2 separate regions of the Homo sapiens genome follow, and region 1 is linked to region 2. Evidence: fine-mapped expression QTL. A gene starts in region 2. The other region holds a variant in brackets. All regions are shown on one strand. Distances are from middle to middle. Region 1 overlaps LOC124904915 (a long non-coding RNA gene). Region 2 holds the start of TNNC2 (troponin C2, fast skeletal type).

Region 1 (8,328 bases), 60 kb after region 2:
GCCCCAGCAATACCATGGGCCCCTGCAGCCTCCACTGCTCCCGTGGGGGCATGATGTTATTGGTAAGGCGTGTAAGTGGGGTGAGGAAGGCAGGAGGCCCAGAGCGTATCCTGGCAGTGGGTTGCTCTTGAGTTGGGAGAGGTGTCTTTCCTTTCATATACAAGTTAAGCCTTCTCCTCAAGGGATTGTGTGGAGAAGCCCAGCTTCCCACAGATTCAGCAATATAAACAAAGAAGAGGCCATGTGACTGGAAAGAATTCTTTGCTGGGTGCTTCATGCTCTGCCCACCAGAGGGCAGCAGAGGTCTGTCATAGACCATTTCCAGGCAAGAGACTCAAAAGGGCAAAAGGGCATTCTAAAAGATAAAGTGAAAGCTTGCTATCAGCTGTCTAAGCTCCTGGATCCCGACTGAACTGCACTTAATAAATTAAGACCTAACATTATGCCCTCTGTTTTCATATGATGTGGCATGCTGCTTCATTTCTGGTAACATTGATATGGGGGACATTACCCACTATGTCGTATTAGTGTTTCTTGTACAAAGCCACAGGGTCAAATTCCCTGTGGAGCTCAAGATCAAGAAAAAGTTTCTCCCTCTGAGTTAGTGTGAGAATGGGCAGGGAAATAACTTACTGGGCATCGTCTGTCTTTCCAGACTCTGTGGTAGGGGCTTTCTAGAGCTGATGTTTCCATCTTCGCATTGGCTACCAGGGTGCCAAGAGCTCAGGTTTCGGAGTAAGGCCTGGGTCTGAATCTATAATCTTGTGCTGCTTATCAGCTTTGTGTGTATAATAACATTACCACACTGCCTACCTCATAGAATTGGTGTGAAGAGTCCATTATAAAGAAAGCACTGGCCAGGTGCAGTGGCTCACACCTGTAATCCCAGCACTTTGGGAGGCCGAGGTGGGTCGACCACCTGAGGCCAGGAGTTTGAGACCACCCTGGCCAACATGGTGAAACCTCGTCTCTACTAAAAATACAAAAATTAGCTGGGCATGGTGGTGGACGCCTGTAGTCCCAGCTACTCGGGAGGCTGAAGCAGGAGACTTGCTTGAACCCAGGATTTGGAGGCTGCAGTGAGCTGAGATCGTGCCACTGCACTCCAGCCTAGGCCACAGAGGGAGACTCCGTCTAAAAAAAAAAAGATTATAAAGAAAGCACTTAGCAGAGCCTGGCACAAAGCACACACTCAATAAATGTTAGCTGTTGTTATTCAGTTTCTCTGACAAAATCGATCCTTCTTGCCACCCTCTTTTATTACTTGTCCTCCCCCACCTTTTTTTTTTTTTTTTTTGAGACAGAGTCTGGCTCTGTCACCAGGCTGGAGTGCAGTGGTGCAATCTTGGCTCACTGCAACCTCCACCTTCCAGGTTCAAGCGATTCTCCTGCCTCAGCCTCCTGAGTAGGTGAGACTACAGGCGCCCACCACCACACCCAGCTAACTTTTGTAGTTTTAGTAGAAATGGGGTTTCACCATGTTGGCCAGGATGGTCTTGATCTCTTGATCTCATGATCTGCATGCCTTGGCCTCCCAAAGTGTTGGGATTACAGGTGTGAGCCACTGCGCCTGGATCCCCTACCTTTTTTCACTCTTGGTTTAAAGACTTTCATTTTCATGTAACTTGTTTTGTAGTATTTTATTTTCTGTTGTTGTTTTTTGTGACAGGGTCTCACTCTGTCTCCCAAGCTGGAGTGCAGTGGTGCAATCATGCTCACTGCAGCCTCGACCTCCCAGGTTCAAGTGATCCTCCTGCTTCAGCTCCCTAAGTAGCTGGGACTACAGATGCGCACCACCATGCCCAGCTAATTTTTGTATTTTTTGTAGAGACAGGGTTTCACCAAGTTGGCCAGGCTGGTCTCGAACTCCTGGCCTCAAATGATCCACCTGCCTTGGCCTCTCAAAGTGCTGGGGTTACAGGCGTGAGCCACTGCACCTGGCTGTTTTATAGTATTAAGTTCCTCCTTGAGTCTTGTTTGGAAGCAGGTGAGGGCAAAGGTAAATGAGAGGTAAGTTCCAGTAGAATACTTGGGCAGAAAGAAGCATCCAGAGCAGCACTCTTTCACAGAAACATAATGCAAGCCATGTATGTAATTTCAAGTTTTTTAGTAGCCACATTAAAAAACTAAACAGTGGTCTGGGCACAGTGGCTCATGCCTGTAATCTCAGCACTTTGGGAGACTGAGGTGGGAGGACTGCTTGAGCTCAGGAGTTCAAGACCAGCCTGAGCAACATAGCAAAATCTTGTCTCTACTTAAAAAAAAAAAAAAAAAGTCAGTCAGGTGTAGTGACATGTGCTTATAGTCCCAGCTACTTGGGAGGCTGAGGTGGGAGGATCACTGGAGCTCAGGAGATTGAGGCTGCAGGGGGCTATGATTGTGCCACTGCACTCTGGCCTGGGCAACAGAGCAAGACCCCGTCTCAAAAAAAAAAAAACCCTAAAAAGTTTGATGGTTTCTCAATAAGTTAAATGTGGAATTACCATATGACCCAGCAATTTCACTCTTAGGTATATACCCAAAAGAACTAAAAACAGGTATCCAATGGCCAAGTGTGATGGCTCACACCTGTAACCCCAGTACTTTGGGAAGCTGGGGTGGAAGGATCGCTTGAGAACATGAGTTTAACACCAGCCTGGGCAACATAGTGAGACCCTTGTCTCTACAGAAAAATTAAAAAAATAACCAGGGTGTGGTGGCATCATAACTGTAGTTCTAGCTACTCAAGAGGCTGAGGTGGGAGGATTAGTTGAGCCCAGGAATACAAGGCTGCAGTGAGCTAAGAAGGTGCCACTGCACTCCTGCCTAGGTGACAGACCCTATCTCTGAAAAAACAAAAAACAAAAAACAAAAAACCCAAACCAAAACCAAACAAACAAAACCCCTAGATGTTCAAGCAAAAACTTGTGAACAAATGTTCATAGAAATAGAAACAGGTGGACAATAGCCAACAGGTGGAAGCAACTCAAATATCTATCAACTGGTGAATGGAGAGACAAAATGTGGTATATCAATACAATGAAATATTAATTCAGCCATAAAAAGGAATGAAGTACCAATACATTCTATAACATGAATGGACCTTGAAAACATGCTAAGTGACAGAAGCCAGTCACAAAAGGCCATATAATTCCATTTATATGGAACATCTAGAATAGGCAAATTCGTAGAGACAGAAGTACATTAGTGGTTGCCAGGGGCTGGTTTTAGATCCTTGCACGGGCTGGTCAATGTGCAGATTCCCCAATCCCATTCCAGATATTTTGATTCAGTAGGTCAAAGATGGGTTGGGCCAAGGGAACTGCTTGTTTATGTGTTTATTCAGAGCAATATTTAAAAAAAGCCCTCAGGGAATTCTAATGTGTGGTCTGGTTTGGGGATCTCTGAATTAGAAGTTCATGAAAGTCCCATCAGCAGCTCTAAGAATCTGTAGCCCAATTCAGTAATTTTTTTTTTTTTTTTTGAGACAGAGACTTGTCGCCCAGGCTGGAGTGCAATGGTGTGCTCTTGGCTCATTGCAACCTCTGCTCCCTGGGTTCAAGCAATTCTCCAGCCTTGGCCTCACAAGTAGCTGGGATTACACCCACCATTAGCCACCACGCCCAGCTAATTTTTGTATTTTTAGTAGAGACAGGGTTTCACCATGTTGGCCAGGCTGGTCTCGAACGCCTGACCTTAAATGATCCACCAGCCTCGGCCTCCCAAAGTGCTGGGATTACAGGCGTGAGCCACTGTGCCTGGCCCAATTTAGTAATATTATTAATGATCATTCTTCCTTTACCTTTCTCTTGTTTTTCTTTTTCAGCTTTCCTGCAATTTCTGAGCTGTCTATATGCTTAGGATCACAAGTCTTTTTTGTTATTCTTTTTCTCCTCCTCACCTTCCTCCTTCTCCTTTTTATTTTTTAATTTGTTGTTGTTGTTTTTAAAATAGGATGCATAAACATTATTGCGATATTTAAACAGTACAGAAAAGTTCAAAGAAGTGTGAATGATGTAAAAGAATATTTATGTACACTGAAGAAGCAATGAAAAAAATTGCTATCTGAAAGATGATTGAAGAGGTTTTATTTTTTTCCTTTCAACTTGTATTTTACTTTAAAGGGATTCATATGCAGGTTTGTTACACGCACTAATTGTGTGTCTTGGGGATTTGGTGTACAGAAAATTTTGTCACCCAGGTAATCAGCATAATATCAGATAGGTAGTTTTTCAATCTTCACTCTCCTATTGCCCTCCACCCTAAGTAGGCCCCAGCGTTTATCATTCCCTGGTGATGACATTTGAAACCATCAAGATCGCTAATGCACCAAAAAAAAAAAAAAAAAAATTCAAAGAAGATCTCCCTACCCATAGGTGACCATTGTTAACATGCTTGTGAAGGTCCTTCCAGACTTGCTTTATGCATATATGCAAATGTCGATATAGGTAGAATCATCCTGTAATAGGCTTTTGTCATTCAACAATATAATAGATAGATATGATTTTTAATTGTTAAGGTATTCAATGTTTAAATATTTACTTATTTATTAATTTAACATGGCTCTGGAACTCTGTAGCTATTGCTTGCCCTGTTTTCCATGATCTTTGCCAAATGGCTTCAAACGCTTTTACATTCTTTCTTTTTTTTTTTCTGAGACAGGGTCTTACTCTGTCACCCAGGCTGGAGTGCAGTGGCTCAAACACGGCCCACTGCTGCCTCGACTTCCTGGGCTCAAGCAATCCTTCTACCTCAGCCTCCGAAGTAGCTGGGACCACAGGCATGCACCACCACACCTGGCTATTTTTTTCAGTTTTTGTAGAGATGGGGTCTCGCTATGTTTCCCAGGCTAAGGTTTTTACTTTCAATCTTAGTTTGGTTAAACCAGCAGGTGTATTCGATGACAAAGCCTCCATTCCTTCTGCAACACTTTTCGGCTTGCAGATAGATTGCTATTTCTTGATATATATATCAAGAAATATATATATGTATTCTTGGTTTTAATTTTTAGGTTCTTCCATTGTGCTGTACTTCATTGTA[T/C]AGGTTACATCTTTCCATGTTCAATACTTTCCCAGTTTTAATATTTTTTTCCTTTAAACATAGGCTTCTCATTCCAGTACTCTCTCACCTGAGGCCAGATAATATAAACAACTCAATCTCTTCTCTCTCGTTTTCCTCTTCCTTCTTAGCACTGAAACTCAAAACCAGAGCAAACCTGCCCCACCTGATGGCCCAGAACATCAGGGTCCCAAATAATGAACTGTTTAAATCACTTGATGCAAAATGAAACACTTATACTGAAATTAAAACAGTTTCTTTCTAGTTTTCTTGACTGCAAATTCTGGTTAAGTTCATTCAAGCTGAACTTGTCAGTTACTTGCTGATGCTTGAAGTGTGTGCTTAGCCTAGCAGCTGGGTAAGCCTGCCCTGCCCTGGAATGGAGCCCTCCTCTAATTGGATGGTTGGGCGTAAGGGTTCTTGGTTACCATCAACAGAAAGATACTGGCTGACTTGGGCAAATGACAGTGAACTGGAAGGAAATTGGGGCTCGTATGATTTATGCAAAGCTAGGGCTCCATGGTAGGGAATTGACAGCACTCTGGAGGGTCAAGAGGGAGGAAGCAGGTCATCTAGGCAGGAAGAGTTGGGTCACAGTGACGCTGCTGTGACAGCGATGTTCTATTTCTCTTTCCCCCTTCTCTCAAGATTGAGACTTCCTGAAAGAGGGAGAATATATGTAATTACTCATTCAGGGTTTCGCAGCCTTGGTCCTATTAATATTTTGGGCTGGATAATTATTTGCTGTGAGGGGCCATCCTGGGTACTATATGATGTTTAGCAGCAGCTCCGGCTGCTTTTCACTAGATGCCAGAATCTCTCCCTGTCATTTGTCACAAACAAATATGTTTCCAGATGTTGCCAAAATGTCCCCTGGGGGGCAAAATCACCCCTGGTTGAGAACCTAGAGAAAAGAATTGCTTCTCTGGCTTGTTTGGGTTAGCAGGCACCTGAAATTAACCCTCACAACAAGACATAGAACAGGGGAAGAGAATTCCTTGAAAGGAAATAGGCTGCTATTAGGAAGGAGAAAGGGATACTTAACATCTCACTATGAGTCTTTAGAGCCGTATAGATTCCTGAAGGGTATTTCACATTTTATGGGTAGCAGTCGTAGATGCAGAAGAAACCTTGATTCGCAGTAGCCAGGGGAGTAGATCTCCTTTCCTGATAGCTCCTGATTTTTCACAGACTACAACTTGTGAAATGAGAAAACAAATCACCAGAGTTGTTAAAATGCAAATTCCAATGCAGTAGGTTTCAGGTGGGTCTGAGATTCTGTATAAATAACAAGCTTCCAGGTGGTGCTGATGCTGCTTTTTTTTTTTTTTTTAAAGTATTCTTCTTTTCATGCGCGTCCATGTGAAGAGACCACCAAACAGGCTTTGTGTGAGCAACGTGGCTGTTTATTTCACCTGGGTGCAGGCGGGCTGAGTCTGAAAAGAGAGTCAGCGAAGGGAGATCAGGGTGGGGCCATTTTATAGGATTTGGGTAGATAAAGGAAAATTACAGTCAAAGGGGAGTTGTTCTCTGGAGGGCAGAGTGGGGGTCACAAGGTGCTCAGTAGGGGAGCTTTTTGAGACAGGATGAGCCAGGAAAAGGAATTTCACAAGACAATGTCATCAATTAAGGCAGGAACAGGCCATTTTCACTTCTTTCGTGGTGGAATGTCATCAGTTAAGGCAGGAACCGGCCATCTGGATGTGTATGTGAAGGTCACAGGGGGTATGATGGCTTAGCTTGGGCTCAGAGGCCTGACATTCCTGTCTTCTTATATTAATAAGAAAAATAAAATGAAATAGTGGTAAAGTGTTGGGACGGCGAAAAGTTTTGGGGGTGGTATGGAGAGAGAATGGGCGATGTTTCTCAGGGCTGCTTCGAGCAGGATTAGGGGCGGCGTGGGAACCTAGAGTAGGAGAGATTAAGCTGAAGGAAGATTTTGTGGTAAGGGGTGATATTGTGGGGTTGTTAGAAGAAACATTTGTCATTTAGAATTATTAGTGATGGCCTGGATACAGTTTTGTATGAATTAAAAAATAAACGGAATTAGAGAAGGACAAAAACAGGTATTAAAGGACTAAGAATTGGGAGGACCTAGGACATCTAATTGGGGATAGTACCAGGAGATATCAGCTGTGATGGTTTGGAGAAACAGTGTAAACTGGCAGTGTAAACAAGAGCAGGGCATGTATGAGTAGTTGAGAGCAGTGAATAGGAGTATGACTAGACAGAAGATAGTAGGGATGACAAGTGTTTTGGGGCACAGTCTGAGTTGGTCTGGTATCTGGAATGAGACTGGGGCCTAATAAAAAGGAGCGTCTATACAGGAGCTTAAATGGGCTGTACCTTGTAGCATTCCGAGGACAGGCCTGAATTCTGAGAAGCGAAAGTGGTAAAAGTATTGTCCAGTCCTTTTTAAGTTAGTGGCTGAGCTTGGTGAGGTGTGTTTTTAATAGACCATTAGTCTGTCACTGACTACTAAGAGCCTGAAAAACTGCTTGGCTGATTTGACTAATAAAGGCTCGTCTGTTATCAGACTGCATAGAGGTGGGAAAGCTAAACTGAGGAATTATGTCTGACAGAAGGGAAGAAATGACTGCGGTGGCCTTCTCAGACCCTGTAGGAAAGGCCTGTACCTATCCAGTGAAAGTGTCTACCTAGACTAAGAGGTATTTTAGTTATCTGACTCGGGGAATGTTGAGTAAAGCCAATTTGCCAGTCCTGGGTGGGGGCAAATCCTTGAGCTTGATGTGTAGGGAAGGGAGGGGGCCTGAATAATCCCTGAGGAGTAGTAGAATAGCAGATGGAACACTGAGAAGTTATTTCCTTGAGGATAGATTTCCACGATGGAAAGGAAATGAGAGGTACTAAGAGGTGGGCTAGTGGCTTGTACTATAGCATAGCCTGTCTTTGCTGGTGTGTGGCGATTAGGCCTGGTGGAACCGCCAGTCAATAAATCAAGCATGATTGGGTGAGGAACAGGAAAGAAGGAAATATGGGGAAATGGGGTGAATGTCAGGTGGATCAGAGAGATACAGTCATGGGGGTCATGTGTGGTATCAGGAATAATGTGGGAGGCCGGATTGGAGTCCGGGCCAGGAACAATGGTAATTGTGGGAGACTTAACAAAGAGTGAGTACAGCTGAAGGAGCCGGGGAGCAGAAAGTATATGTGTCAGGTGTGAGAAAGAAAATAATTCTGGAAGTTATGAGAGGTGTAGAGAGTGAGCTGAGCATAGTTTGTGATTTTTAGGGCCTCTAAAAGTATTAAAGCAGCGGCAGCCGCTGCACG
Region 2 (8,328 bases):
TAGAGACATGAGCCACCGTGCCCGGCCTCTTCTTTCAGAGACAGAGTCTCACTCTGTTGTGAGGCTGGAGTGCAGGGGTGCGATCATAGCTCACTGCAGCCTCAAACTCCTGGGCTCAAGTGATTCTCCCACCTCAGCCTCCCAAGTATCTGGGACTACAGATATGTGCCCACCATGCCTGGCTAGTATTTTATTTTTTGTAAAGGTGGGGTTGCATGTTGCCCAGGCTGATCTTGAACTCTTGGCCTGAAGAGATCCTCCTACCTCTGCCTCCCAATGTGCTGGGATTACAAGTATGAGCTACCACCCACCATTCTTTGTTTTATTTTAATTTTTTAATTGGAGACAGCGTCTCGCCATGTTGCCCAGGCTGGTATTGAACTCCTGGGCTCAAGAGATCCACCTGCCTCAGCTTCCCAATGTGCTAGGATTAAAAGTGTGAGCCACTGCCCCCATTCTTAAATTCTGTATGGATATCTCCCTACAGCCTCCCTGAGAAATGGTCATCTAGCTCCTGTTTGGGTATACTCAGTGATACGGAGCTCATTACCTCCTGAGGCCACCTGTTCCCATTATTGTTCAACTATGACTATTAGGAAGTTCCCCCTTATATTGAACTAAATACCATCCAGTTCAGTTATTCTTATGTAGAATATAATATCTGTTGAACACCTGCTACATAGCAAGTGCTGAGCACTGGGAAATGTGATGATCTGTAGAACATAGAATGGGTTGTGAGCATAAGGTATGCTCAGTGCTATGATTGAGGAAACTACTAGAGACCACCTTGGACTCCCTGGTCTGGACACAGTGGGGGAAGGATCCCCGAGGAAGTGATGTTAGAGCTTAGAAAGATGATAGGGAAGTAGACAGATGAAGAGAGGAAAGATGGGAGTTTCTGGCAGAAAAAAACAGCATGTGCAAAGGCTTGAAGGTTCATAGAAGGTGGTGTTTAGAGTAGTCTTTTTTTTTTTTTTTTTTTTTTTGAGATGCAGTCTCCTTTTGTCGCCCAGGCTGGAGAGCAGTGGCATGATCTTGGCTCAGTGCAACCTTCGCCTGCCAGGTTCAAGTGATTCTTCTGCCTCAGCTTCCCAAGTAGCTGGGACTACAGGCGCCCACCACCACACCCAGCAGCAATTTTTTGTATTTTTAGTAGAGACAGGGTTTCACCATGCTGGCCAGGATGGTCTCGAACTCCTGACCTCGTGATCTGCCAGCCTGCACCTCCCAAAATGCTGGGATTACAGGCATGAGCCACCGTGCCCAGCCTAGAGCAGTATTTTAAAGTCTGATCAGAGCAGACAGCAACATGATGTGGAGGGAAGGAGTGAGATTAGAAGGGCCAATGGGACCTTGCTTGGCTACATTAAGCAATTTGGGCCTTACCTAATCCCTTGAATAAACAAAAGAACAAAGGCTGGGCTCAGGGGCTCATGCCTGTAATCCTAGCACTTTAGGAGGCTGAGGCAGGCGGATCACTTGAGGTCAGGAGTTTGAGACCAGCCTGGCCAACATGATGAAACTTTTTTTTTTTTTGAGACGGGGTCTTGCTCTGTTGCCCAGGCTGGAGTGCAGTGGTGTGATCTCGGCTCACTGCAAGCTCTGCCTCCCAGGTTCACACCATTCTCCTGCCTCAGCCTCAGCCTCCCAAGTAGCTGGGACTACAGGCGCCCACCACCATGCCCGGCTAATTTTTTTGTATTTTTAGTAGAGATGGGGTTTCACTGTGTTAGCCAGGATGGTCTCGATCTCCTGACCTCGTGATCCGCCCATCTCAGCCTCCCAAAGTGGTGGGATTACAGGCCTGAGCCACCGTGCCCGGTCGATGAAACCTTGTCTCTACAAAAAGTAAAAAATTTGCCGGGTGTGGTAGCTCACACCTGTAATCCCAGTGCTTTGGGAGGCTGAGGTGGGCGGATCACCTGAGGTTGGGAGTTTGAGACCAGCTTGACCAACATGGAGAAACCCTGTCTCTACTAAAAATACAAAATTAGCCGGGCATGGTGGCTCATGCCTGTAATTCCGGCTACTCGGGAGGCTGAGGCAGGAGAATTGCTTGAACCCAAGAGGCGGAGGTTGTGGTGAGCCGAGATTGCACCATTGTACTCCAGCCTGGGCAACAAGAGCAAAACTCTGTCTCAAAAAAAAAAAAAAAAAAAAACCAAAAACAAAAATTAGCTGGGCGTAGTGGTATGTGCCTGTAATCCTAGCTACTCAGAAGGCTGAGGCATGAGAATCACTTGAACCTAGGAGGCGGAGGGTGCAGTGAGCCGAGATTGTGCCACTGCATTCCAGCCTGGGTGACAGAGTGAGAGTCTGTCTCAAAAACAAAACCCCAAAAAACCAAAAAACAATAAAAACTAAATTGGAATCCCATGGGTCTCCCTCACCCTTTGGCACCCTGCCTGCCTGGGGGAGGCCTTATTTAGCTTGGCCCAGCCCTGCTGAGCTTTCCTTGGGAATGTCTATATATAGGGGAAGGGGGCAGCCCAGTTGCCACTGTCCATCTGCATTCCTTGGTGTCCAGCCCCCCTTTCCTGGCCCCAGAGCCTGCTATCGGTTGTCTTGGTGCTCTTTCTGTCCACGTAGCCACTGTCTACAAGCCTTGCCTACTCCCCAGTGCCCAGCCTGCACCTTGTGGATTCTCAGGTTGGGCTCCCTCTGGACTTGGTCTGCCCACCCCTTTACTCCCCAGATGACCAGATTTCTTCACTGAGCTCTAGGAAGGGGCCAGCTGTCCTTTTACCACTTAAAGAACCTTCCCCTGCCTACTCCTTACTTCAAAAAAAGTGAATCCAAACACCCTTTCCCTGGAGAAGGTAACTTTCAGAGAAGGATCTTTGCTTTCAATGATTATTTCTCCTCCAAATGCACATCCTCCTCTCCTCCATCCCTCCATACATTTTTCCATCTGGACAGGTGCCCCAAGGACTGTCTGTCCCAACTTCCCTCCAGTCAGGATTAATAATAAGAATCATCAACATGGGTGGGCATGGTGCCTCATGACTGTAATTCTAGCACTTTGGGAAACCAAGGTGGAAGGATCCCCTGAGCCTAGGAGTTCGAGACCAGCCTGGGCAACATGGTGAAACCCCATCTCTATAAAAATACAAAAAAAAAAAAAGCCAGGGGTGGTGGTGCACCTCTAGTCCCAGCTACTCGGGAGGCTGAAGTGGGAGGATCACTTGAGCCCAGGAGATAGAGGCTGCAGTGAGCTATAATAGCACCACTGCACATCAGCCTTGGTGACAGAGTGAGTATAGACCTTTATAATTTACAAAGCTCTGCAGTCAAGTGGGGATAATCGTTGCTACCTCATAGGAGGAGCACTAGATGAGATCATGTTAAAATGCTTAGCACAGTGTGTGGCACGTCATGGGGTTCAGTAAACAGTGGCCTACCTGTCACTTTCTCCTCCTATCCCCTGCCCCTTACCATGGTTCAAAGACGGGACATTCCTCTTGCCAAGCACCAACGCTGTGTACCCAGCACAAGCTAGGTGACTTATACCCGGGTTCCCATTTACCATGGTCTCTCTGTGAGGGAGACCCCACAGACAGGTCCAATCCCACAGATGAAGAAATGGCTCAGAGAGGCACTGCTACCGGCCCAAGGTCACACAACTCGCAGAGGCTGGCCTTGGATCTTGGGTTTTGGACTTCAAGGCTTGTACTCTCCCCATTTTACCATGCTGCCTCACCCTTTACTACTCTGATCATCCTTACCATCTTGGAGCCAGTGTGCTTCCTCGGTCGGGGGGACTCCAAGGCAGTGGAACAGGGCAGGCCTTCCTCACAAGAATCTAGGACGTCAAGGCCTGCCACCTGCTTGGAGGCTTAAATTTCTCTGCAAGGGCCCTTGGCTAAATTAGGTAATGGGTTCAGACTGTGGGAGGGGTGGGACTCGCTGACCCCAGGATCTGATTGGGCAGGGTCTCCAGTGCTGGGGAGCAGGGAGGTGGGAGGGGAGGGTGCCCCTACAAATCCCGGGGGCTAGAGCAGGCCAGGTCATCTTTGGGTGGTGGAGTGCAAAGGAGGCGACCTGCAACAGAGGAGTCCCGGTCACCAGCAACCATGGTAAGGACAAGAGGGGACTTTGTGCCTTTACTCACGGGAGCACTCTGGACCCCTTTCAGGCCAGGCCTGGGTGCTCTGTGGGGCAGTAACTTGGATGTTTGAGGTTGGAGCATGGAGGTTCCTGGAACCCAGGTGTCTTGGAGGAAGGCCTTTGACTTTTCTTGAAAGGGGAGGGCTGGGATATTCCAGAGATTGATCCTTAAGGCTTGCTGACTGCCTACTCACTTCTGGAAACTTCCAGCAGTGTCATTCATAGACCTGTGAAGAGCTCTTAGCTTGTTTCCTTCACACAGTGGGGACTCTGAGGGGTCAGAGTGAGTCACCCAGCAGGCCAGTGGCAGGGGTGAGCCAGAAGCCTGGCCAAACCCTCCTATCATCATGGAGAGAAGAAAGCCTCCTCCAGAAGACGGGAGGCCGGCAGGGCGTGGGGCCTGCTCAGATGCAGGGCTCTGGGAGCCCTGAGGATGATGGGAAGGGGCAGAAGATGACAGACCAGAGTTAGAGAGACTCCGCTCTCCTAGAGAGGGCTTCTGATTTGGAGCTGTTGTTTTGGTCTGAGATCCCCCTCCCCACTTCACTTCAAGGAGTAACTAGATCCCAGAGGCCAGCTGCTGTTGCCCATGCCTGACTAAAAATAGCCTGCCCTCCTGGCATAGGGAAAGAGGAGGAGAGGAAGGAGGGGGAGAAGGAGGAGCACTGGTGGCCAGCTGGCTGAAGAGCTCCTTGGAAGCCTCACCCTGTCCTCACTGCCAGCCTCAATCCAAAGCCTCTGACCCAGATGGCCTGGCTTGGATATGACGTGGAAACCCCTGCAGAAATCTCACTTTCATGTCAAGGCCTCCATCACATTCGGCCCCCCATGAGGGGCCTTTTCTCCAATGACTGAATCCTAAGAAGGAAGCTGACAGCCTCCGACTCTGCCAGTTCTCTGAGGGGCGGGATGATGTGTCTTTTATCTCTTCTTTGTGGTTCCAGTGCCTGATCTGTGGCCTGACATGCAGCAAGTACTCAATAACTTTGTGTTGCATTATTATTTATTTGAGAACAAACATTTTATTGAGCAACTATTAAAGTACCGGGCACCATTAGGAGCTGCAGAAAACTGGAAAATAGTGCTGGAATGGTGCTAGCCCTTTACAAAGCCCTTTCACACCCCTGATATCTCATCCCTGAAAAGCTACAGAGAAAAGATGAAGGCACGCTAATTGACGTGCCTAAGGTCACTGGGGGGTGGGGGGGGTTCCCGACTTGGCCTTCAATTGACAAGTGAGAAGGCCTTGGGCTTAACTTGTTGTCTCCTCTCTTTTGCTCAAAACTGGGGTCACAGGCTGCGCGCGGTGGCTCACGCCTGTAATCCCATCACTTTGGGAAGCTGAGGCAGGCAGATCGCCTAAGGTAGGGGGTTCGAGACCAGCCTGACCAACATGGAGAAACCTCATCTCTACTAAAAATACAAAATTAGCCGGGCGTTGTGGTGCATGCCTGTAATCCCAGCTACTCGGGAGGCTGAGGGAGAAGAATCGCTTGAACCCCGGAGGTGGGGGTTGCGGTTGTGGCGAGCTGAGATCGTGCCATTACACTGCAGCCTAGGCAACAAGAGCAAAACTCCGTCTCAAAACAAAACAAAACAAACAAACAAAAAAAACTGGGGTCAGGCCGGGCATGGTGGCTCACGCCTGTAATCCCAGCACTTTGGGAAGCCGAGGTGGGCGGATCACCTGATGTGAGGAGTTCAAGACCAGCCTGGCCAACATGGTAAAACCTCGTCTCTACTAAAAATACAAAAATTAGCTGGGCGTGTTGGCGCATGCCTGTAATCCCAGCTACTCGAGAGGCTGAGGGAGGAGAATCGCTTGAACCCAGGAGGTGGAGGTTGCAGTGAGCCGAGATCACGCCATTGCACTCCAGCCTGGGCGACAGGGCGAGACTGTCACAAAAACAAAAAGCAAAAACAAAAACTGGGGTCAGAAGCTGGGCACAGTGGCTCAAGCCTGTAATCCTAGCACTTTGGGAGGCCGAGGTGGCAGGATCACTTGAACCCAGGAGTTCAAAACCAGCCTGGGTAATATAGTGGGACCCCATCTCTACAAAAAATTTTAAAAATTAGGCGTGGTGTATGCTATAGTCCCAGCTACTCAGGAGGCTGAAGTGGGACGATTGCTTGAGCCCAGGAGGTTGAGGCTGCAGTGAGCTATGATCACACTACTGCACTCCAGCATGTGTGACAGAACGAGACAAAACAAAACTGTGATTGGGTGCTGTGCGGGCACACAATTATGTGACAAGTTTGAAGTTGTTCTTCTGGAGAACCAAGGGCGCTGACAGAGTGGGGGTTGGGAAGAATGGCTTTGAGGTGAGGAACTGCTCTGGGGCTGCCTCTTCAGCTCAGACTTTCTCTGTGTCTCCTGCAGACGGACCAGCAGGCTGAGGCCAGGTCCTACCTCAGCGAAGAGATGATCGCTGGTGAGTGAGGCGCGGCAGGCTGGGGGCTGGGTGGATGTATGCTGGGGACATGTTGGCCTCTAGGCAGGGTGGGGGTTGGGGGGGGGTAGGTGTGAGGCTGACAGTCCAGCAGGCCTCACCTCTGCCCTCTGCCCTCCCTCGCAGAGTTCAAGGCTGCCTTTGACATGTTTGATGCTGATGGTGGTGGGGACATCAGCGTCAAGGAGTTGGGCACGGTGATGAGGATGCTGGGCCAGACACCCACCAAGGAGGAGCTGGACGCCATCATCGAGGAGGTGGATGAGGACGGTGAGCGGGTGTCCCTCGGAGGCAGGGGATGGTGGGGAGAGGCGGCAGCGGCTGGGCTCAGGCTCAGTCTGCCACCTGCTGCCCGCAGGCAGCGGCACCATCGACTTCGAGGAGTTCTTGGTCATGATGGTGCGCCAGATGAAAGAGGACGCGAAAGGGAAGAGCGAGGAGGAGCTGGCCGAGTGCTTCCGCATCTTCGACAGGTGCGCTGGGGGCCCGGGAGCCGAGGGAGGGGCTTAGCAGTCAGAACCCGGCCGGCAGCGCTGGAAGCTTCCCCGTGTTGGGAGTGCGGAAGCGGGGCGTCGAGTGTGGTGGCCAGGGCAGCTCGCCCCGGCCCTGAGCCCTGCCCTGTCCCTCGGACCTGAAGGAATGCAGACGGCTACATCGACCCGGAGGAGCTGGCTGAGATTTTCAGGGCCTCCGGGGAGCACGTGACGGACGAGGAGATCGAATCTCTGATGAAAGACGGCGACAAGAACAACGACGGCCGCATTGACTTCGACGGTGAGGGCCAACGGGAGCTTGGGAAGAGCGGGTGGGAGCCCCAGAGGACGGCGGGCACTGGTGCCTGGCTCCGGTGCAGTGTCCTTGGCCTTGTGGGCTGGGCTGGGCGTAACTTCACCAAGTTCCCCATAGTCTCCTGGGGGCAGGTATAGAAGCGCTCCACGACTCTGTGCAGTTTATCAATTAATGACCAGGCAGGGGGGCGTGGTGGCTCAGGACTGTAAAATCCTAGAACTTTGGGAGGATGAGGTGGGAGGATTGCTTGAGGCCAAGAGTTCGAGACCAGCCTGGGCAACATAGTGAGACCCTGTCTTTACAAAAAATAAAATAAAATAAAAAGGCAGGTGTGGTGGCACACCTGTGGTCCCAGTTGCTCCGGGGGCTGAGGTAAGAGGATCGCTTGAGCCTAGGAGATCAAGGCTGCAATGAGTTATGATTGTGCCACTGCACTCTAGCCTGGGTGACAGACCTTGGCGACCTTGGCAACAGAGTGAGACTCTGTCTCAACAAAAACAAAAACAAAAAGTCATCCCCTCTGTGTGGCTGGAGCCCTGGCCTGGCCTCTGCGTCCCCAGTGGGACCCCTGACCCTCTCCCTCTCCTTTCCCTCAGAGTTCCTGAAGATGATGGAGGGCGTGCAGTAAGGAGTGGACAGTCGCCTCTACCAAGATCGCGTGTCCCTAGGGTGTGGGAGACTCCGCCCTGCCGGGTCCCCACCAGGGAGGCGCGACCCCTTGTGGGTCTTTGTCTGGAAGGAATAAAAGCAAATGTTCCAAAACTCGTGGCCTGAATGAGGGGAGAGCCGAGGACAGCAGGTCGCAAGGGCTGTGGTCCAGGGCGCCATCCCGGCTGGCACCACCCGGAGCACCCTTGGGGATCCCCGGGAGAGGCTGTCTGAGCGGCGGGATGTGGAAGGGAGCTGGGCCCTGGAGCCCGAGGCGGCGGCTGCGAGTGCTCGATGGCGCTGACTCGCTCTGCAGGTTTGCAGCCGGCTCCTG

Evidence for each region.
Region 1: its variant is fine-mapped to the expression of TNNC2 in whole blood (INTERVAL, PIP 0.92).

Annotation. Positions count from the first base shown.
Region 1 is chr20:45,763,303-45,771,630 of GRCh38, reverse strand. It overlaps LOC124904915 (a long non-coding RNA gene), which reads right to left. Exons shown (of 2, transcript XR_007067610.1): 2 at 4,051-6,473. Among named protein-coding and RNA genes, the nearest start is that of WFDC3, 24 kb to the left of the region's middle. RefSeq lists enhancers at 1-564, 5,034-5,965, 5,966-6,898, 7,832-8,328. The variant T/C (reference allele first, on the strand shown) is at 5,020.
Region 2 is chr20:45,822,994-45,831,321 of GRCh38, reverse strand. TNNC2 (troponin C2, fast skeletal type) reads left to right here and starts at 4,010. Exons shown (of 6, transcript NM_003279.3): 1 at 4,010-4,076; 2 at 6,488-6,539; 3 at 6,684-6,827; 4 at 6,916-7,030; 5 at 7,195-7,331; 6 at 7,943-8,108. The coding sequence starts at 4,074. The coding sequence ends at 7,974.